Linked DNA regions of Homo sapiens. The protein of the gene in region 1 interacts with the protein of each later gene in a pairwise test. Each region holds a gene or a part of one and is shown in the gene's direction. Other genes may lie near its edges.

Region 1 (3,181 bases):
TTATTTATGCCAGCTAGAAGGCATGATATCATATGGCCTGATTTCTGTCTGTCTACTGAAGTTGCCTGATAATTCCAACTGGGGCCAGTTCTGGGGACAGCTAGGGTCCCTATTGGATTATGAGCAGCATCTTGTTGGTGGAGGGTGTTCTCATGGACCTGGGCACCCATAAAGATGTGTTCCCTGTCCTCCAGGGTGAGGGTAGAGGAGAGGATGACATATATGTCATGCCAGGTAAGGTCATAAGATTTAGGGAAGTACAAGAATTCCTTGTGGAAGGAGGTTGGATCCATTGAAAAGGAGTCAAGTCTCCTTTCAATATGGGAAAACTCAGCTAGAGAGAAGGGAACTTGAATTCAGATTATGCCTTTAGCCCTCGCAACCTCCTGCAAGGGAAGGACTTTGGAAGGCCTTTGGGCATGTGCCTGGTTCCTAGCGAAAGGGGGTTGGGTGTGAGACCTGGTTTGAGGTGGAGAAGGAAGGGGGATGGAGGGCGACAGTAAGGGGGTGGAGGAGCCGGATCCGAAGGAGAAGGTGGAGGGAATGGGAGAGGGCAGGAGGCTGAAGAACGGGTGTGTTGGCCAGGTTGAAATTCAGAGGAAGAAGACTTGTCCGGAGGAAGAGGCATTTTGGGGGGTTTCTCCTTGAGGAGGAAGATTTGAAAAGGTGAACAAGATTGGCAGAGAGAGAGAGAGAGAGAGAGAGAGAGAGAGAGAGTGAGGCATGAAAGGAGATAAGCAAAGCACTTCAGATTATTTACCATTGCATTGAAGAAAGTTTTTTAGATTATGTTGAATTTGGAAGTTGAATGTTTTGTTTTTTGGAAGAGGGGAGTGAATACTCTGGATGGGAGTGACTACCCCTGAGGAAAGTGAGTACCCTGGAAGGGAGTGAGTACCCCAGGGGTGAGCGAGTACTCCAGAGAGAAGTGAATACCCCATAGGGAAGTGAGTACTTGATTCCTCCTGGGAGAAGGGACCTGGAGAGTTGGGGCAGCCCCGTACTATTCATGCTCCCCAGAGGCCAGAGCAGCCAGAGTGGCAAACGTTTTGAAGGTGTACCCTAAGAAGGGAGGCTGCAGTCACCTGGTGACTGGGGAGACCTCTCACCCAGCACTGGAATTTTTTGGAGAACGGGCAGAAATAGAGAGGAATCTGGAAAGGAGGAAGAGGGAGACTCACCCACTAATTGAAGCCCAGTGTTGGATGTGATGTCCAGAAATGGGGGTGATCCTTGTTGCAGCTGCCCGGAAACAGGAAGGAACAAAAAATAAGGTGGCTTGTTTGATCACTATCTGGAGGTTAGCCCAGGTCTGGAGAAGACTAGAGAATAAGGAGAATGGGACTGGGAACAGGGAGTACACTCAGGATCTGGAAGCAGGCCCTGGTCTAGTTTGTGCTGCTTGCTGCTTTCCAGGTTGCAAGAGAAAACTTACCCATTAGAACCCAATCACCACTCCAGGTTTTGGCACCAAAATGTTAGGTTTTGAAGGGAAGGCAAGGATGAAAGAAAGACACACAGGGGGCAGCTCAAACAGCAACACAGGAATATGGCAGACACCTATGGAAGTGGAGGACAAGCTTAATGCCAGAGCCCACCGCCGCTTACAGGCTGGGGTACTTACAGGGATGGGCAGGAGGGATCTGGGCAATGTGGGATGCTATCCGGCAGGATATTGATAAGATGTTCTTATGATCAGGTGGTTTGGCCCTTTTTCCAGTGGAATATCATTGTGGCGTTCCTTAGAACTTTGCCAAGCAAGATATGATAGGAATGTTTCTTTAGTTGGGCCTTTGTCCGCCCTGTGGTCAGGTGGTTAGGCAGGATGTTTCTCACGGCCTGAGCCCCCATGGAGTGTCTCACTTTGACCAAGGTCTGCAAAATAGCAAAGAACTTGCGAAATCGTGCAGTTTGGACTAACAGATGACCCTACCCATGCTCCTCTTCTTCTTCCCCATAGATCACTACCCTATGATTCCACCTTGTTCTTCTCTGGCACAAACCCCTTCCTCAACCTGCATTCCTTCTCATAAAGCCCCCCTTGCTATCCAGTCTCTACCCTATTCACCCAAAATAATGACTTTCTGGCCTCTCCCTGTTTTCTTATCAGATGCAGGAGGCACCGAACAGGGTCTTAGCCCCCAAACAGAGCTTGCAAAAGACAAAAACAATAGAATATCTAACAATAATAGTGTATTACTACAGGAAGCATACGAAAATAAATTCAAATCAACTGGAGAAGGACCAGTCCCGAGAGAACTCCATCAATCCAGTCCAAGAGGAGGAGGACGAAGGCCTAGACTCAGCTGAAGGATCTTCACAGGAGGACGAAGACCTGGACTCATCTGAAGGATCTTCACAGGAGGACGAAGACCTGGACTCATCTGAAGGATCTTCACAGGAGGACGAAGACCTGGACTCATCTGAAGGATCTTCACAGGAGGACGAAGACCTGGACTCATCTGAAGGATCTTCACAGGAGGACGAAGACCTGGACCCACCTGAAGGATCTTCACAGGAGGACGAAGACCTAGACTCATCTGAAGGATCTTCACAGGAGGGTGGGGAGGACTAGTCAAACATGGAGAAACCAAATTGGACAAATCCTCACTACCAATGGCGATGATTACAATAAAATCAAGTTTGAGGAGCTGATGACCGTGTATATCTCTGCCTGTTGTCTGATGGTGGGAAGGAAGGGAAGGGAAGAGGTAGGCATTTGAGAAGGGAAGGATATGAGATCCTGTAGGGTTGGCGGACAGACCCACAGGTTGACAGTTTCCCAGACATTGTAAATAAGGCCTGGGGGAGGACTTATTCCTAGAGACAAATTTTCTTCTTAAAATTTTATCTAACAGGAGAGGAAGAAAAGGACTTGGTGTTTGGAGCATGTGAATATGTAGAAGGGCATTTAAAAAGATCTGTATTGGCCGGGCACGGTGGCTCATGCCTATAATCCCAGCACTTTGGGAGGCCGAAGCAGACGATCTCCTGAGGTCAGGAGTTCGAGACCAGCCTGTCCAACATGGCAAACCCCAGTCTCTACTAAAAAAAAAAAATACAAAAATTAGCTGGGAGTGGTGGCAGGTGCCTGTAATCCCAGCTACATGCGAGGCTGAGGCAGGAGAATCACTTGAACACAGGAGGCGGAAGTTGTAGTGAGCTGAGATCTGGCCACTGC
Region 2 (3,532 bases), about 41 Mb from region 1:
CCGTCTCTTTCTTCTGCCATTCACAATATCAACTTCCGTCCTAAGGCTGATAGCTTGATGGCTACAACAATTCCAGGAGGTAAGCAACTTCCTGAGGAAGAAGAAAAGACAATCTTTTCTGATGACTTTGTCTTATGAATGAGGACACTTTCCTCAGAAGTCCATCTGTAACCTTCCCCTAATGTCACATTGAGTGGAATTTGATCAATGCCTCTTCCTAAACAAGAGAGTACCAAGGGGATAGATTATCCGTAGACCAAAGAGACTCACTCTTGGAAATGGAATTAGCCTCTCTGTGACATGTGACTAAAAGGAGGAGAAAGTCAGTAACCTGCAGTGGCAACTATGCAAAAATGGCATCCTTTTAGTAAAGGGTTATGGTAAGCAACACAGAATATACAAAGCACTGAGGCTACAGCACAAAGAGCACAGTGACACTGACTTAGCAATTATGACCTTTAAAAACCATGTAGTTCTCATCTATTCTTTCTTGCTTTCTCCAGCCCACTCCATAATAGGAATAGATCAGAAATTTTAAAAGAACTAGAAAGATCTGATATACACATGTTGTGCAGGATATCAAATAGTTTTCTCAGTATACACAATAATCCTGTAAAGTAGTTAATGCCAGCTCCCTTTTAAGGATGAAGAAACTGGGTTATAAAGACGTTAAGTACCTTTGCTAAAGTTACACAAATAGTGACAAAGTCTGTATTCAGACTTTGGACTGTCTGGCTCTGAAATCTGGGTACTCCCAACTCTTCTGTACAAACTCCCTTTAGAATGTACTCCCAGGGCTCAGAAACTAGTTACTCTAGTCTAAGCAAGCACTTAACAATCATTAGGCAGTTAATGTAAACTATAGATTCTAATAGTATCATGCACTGCCTCTTGATGGTGGTGGTGGTGGTAGTGACATAGACAACTTTTCTCTCCTAGCATTAAGTTACAGTTCCTCAGACTTCATTACCAATAATATATATATTTTTCAATTTTTAAAGATTTTTTGTAGAAACAAGGTATAACTGCATTGCCCAGGCCAGTCTTGAATTCCTGCACTCAAGTGACCCTCCCACCTTGGCCTCCCAAAGTGCTGGAATCACAGGCATGAGCCATTGTGCATGGCCATTACCAGGAATTTTGATTCAGGAGGTCAAAAGTCTAATTTGCATTGCACATTACAAATTTTTGGGCTGAGATGTCAGGTTCAGGGAGCCCCATAAATTTCCTGTACCTGGGAGTGAAAAGAGCTAATATTTATGGAGCAGCTGGGTTTTCCAGGGCAACCTAATTCCCAGATGTGATGTTCAGCAGAAAAGAAGCAGACAAAAGCAATGTGCACTGCTTTTTTTTTTTTTTTTTTTTTTTTTTAAATAGAGAGGGGGTCTTGCTATGTTGCCTAGGCTGCTCTTGAGCTCCTGGACTTAAGCGATCCTCCCACCTTGGACTCCCAAAGTGCTGAGATTAAAGGTGTGAGCCACCACACCCAGCCCATTTTAAATTTTTTATTTTTTATTTTTCACTGCTCTTTAGCTTCCCTGTTAAAACCCATAGCCAGACTTCCAGTTTCAGTTCCAACATGTAAGAACTTGTAAGTCATTGCTCCTGTACTTACAACCAGAAAAAAATCTGAACAAACAGAATCAACAACATTTCTTAGATTCTTCAAAGAACTGAGGCATAGGACAGTTGACTACCCCAAATTCTGAAGGCAAATCCAGAGAGTCACAGCCTATTTCTTCTTTCATAGAACAGAAACTGCTAGAGACATAAATAGGTAAGAGCACTTAAATGTAATTTTGATGAATTGCTGGAGACTGAGTGTGGAATAATATGAGAGTGAGAAACCCCTGAGGATCTGCAGTCAGGGAGGTCCCCACACTTTTGTGGGCATTACTTCCAAGAAACCCACCATATTCTTGCAGTGAAGGGCCTCATGGCCCCTGCAGTGGGAAGGGAACTGTACTTTTGTGAAATACACCCAGAGCCTTCTTCATTTTTTAAAAAAAAAGCCTATTCTGTGGTGGAAAAGACTTTATCAGAGCCTTATCTCAGCTGAGGGAAAGGCGTTTCTCCTATTTCAGCCCCCTTTAGGTTTCTAGTCTCATGTAAGGGAGAGAAAGGCGCTAAAATAAAACTCTTATGAAAATCAAAGCCCAGGGACACAGGCCCACAAAAGACTGAAATTTAATCATAATATTATAGAACACTTCCTCTCCTCTGCACTTCACCACCATGCTAACAAGGCTTTATTATAATAATAGTGGATAACAGTGAATAACAGTTAAAAGAGCTGCAAAATGTAAACTCTCCCTGAGAAGAATATTTAGGGAAATGCTAGAAATCAAAAATACTGTAACAGAGCCCAGGCACAGTGGCTCACGCCTGTAATCCCAACACTTTGGGAGGCTGAGGTGGGTAGATCACCTGAGGTCAGGAGTTCAAGATCAGCCTGGCCAACATGGAGAAACCCCATCTCTACTAAAAGTACAAAAATTAGCTGGGCGTGGTGGCGGGTGCCTGTAATCCCAGCTACTCAGGAGGCTGAGGCAGGAGAATCGCTTGAACCCGGGAGGTGGAGGTTGCAGTGAGCCGAAATTGTGCCACTGCACTCCAGCAAATGAAGAATGCCTTTGATGGGATTATCAGTAGACTGGACACAGTTGAGGAAAGACTCAGCAAGCTTGAGTAGCAGTCCCCAATCTTTTTTGGCACCAGGGGCAGATTTCGTGGAAGACAATTTTTCCATAGACTGGGGGGCGAATGGCATGGTTTCAGGACAATTGAAGTGCATTACATGTATTATGTACTTTATTTCTATTATTATTACATTGTAATAGATAATGAAATAATTATACAATTCACCATAATGTAGAATCACTGGGAGCCCGGAGATTGTTTTTGTAAAGCTAGATGGTCCCATCTTGGGGTGATGGGAGGCAGTGACAGATCATCAGGCATTAGATTCTCATAAGGAGCATGCAACCTAGATCCTTCACATGTGCAGTTCACAATACGGTTTGTGCTCTTATGAGAATCTAATGCCACTGCTGATCTTCCAGAAGGCGGAGCTCAGGCGGCAATGAAAGTGATGGGGAGTGGCTGTATATACAGATGAAGATTTACTGGCTAGCCCGCCACTCACCTCCTGCTGTGTGACCCAGTTCCTAACAGGCCATGGACGGGTCCAGGTCCGTGGCCTAGGGGCTGGGGACTCCTGAGCTTGAAGATAGGTCAATAGTGTAAACTAAAAAGTATGTAAGACATGTCTCAATTGATTTAGAAGTTTATTTTGCCAAGGTGAAGACATTCCCAGAAGAAAAGAGCATGGAATCACAGAAACAGTCTGTGGTCTGTGCCTTTATCCAAAGATAATTTTGAGGGCTTCAATATTTAAATGGAAACAGCAGGCTAGAGGGGAAGAGGGAGGGTACAGTAATCCACATGATGCAAGGGAAAAGGAGCAGAAACAGGAATAGTCAATTCTGTATTCCTCTGGCTCACAGTAAATCAGCACTTTACATAAGGTAAG

Evidence for each region.
Region 2: the proteins of SPANXN2 (region 1) and GPRASP3 interact in binary tests that used the Homo sapiens proteins (3 or more experiments, as listed by UniProt).

Annotation. Positions count from the first base shown.
Region 1 is NC_000023.11:143,711,429-143,714,609, reverse strand, and holds the end of SPANXN2 (sperm protein associated with the nucleus on the X chromosome N2), read left to right. Parts: intron 1-2,110; coding exon 2,111-2,575; 3' UTR 2,576-2,655; downstream 2,656-3,181.
Region 2 is NC_000023.11:102,727,225-102,730,756, forward strand, and holds part of GPRASP3 (G protein-coupled receptor associated sorting protein 3), read left to right. Parts: intron 1-3,532. UniProt on the Homo sapiens protein: Survival and differentiation promoting protein that plays a role in the regulation of neurosynaptogenesis. Induces phosphatase PP2A activity which results in APP dephosphorylation and inhibits BACE1-mediated processing of APP.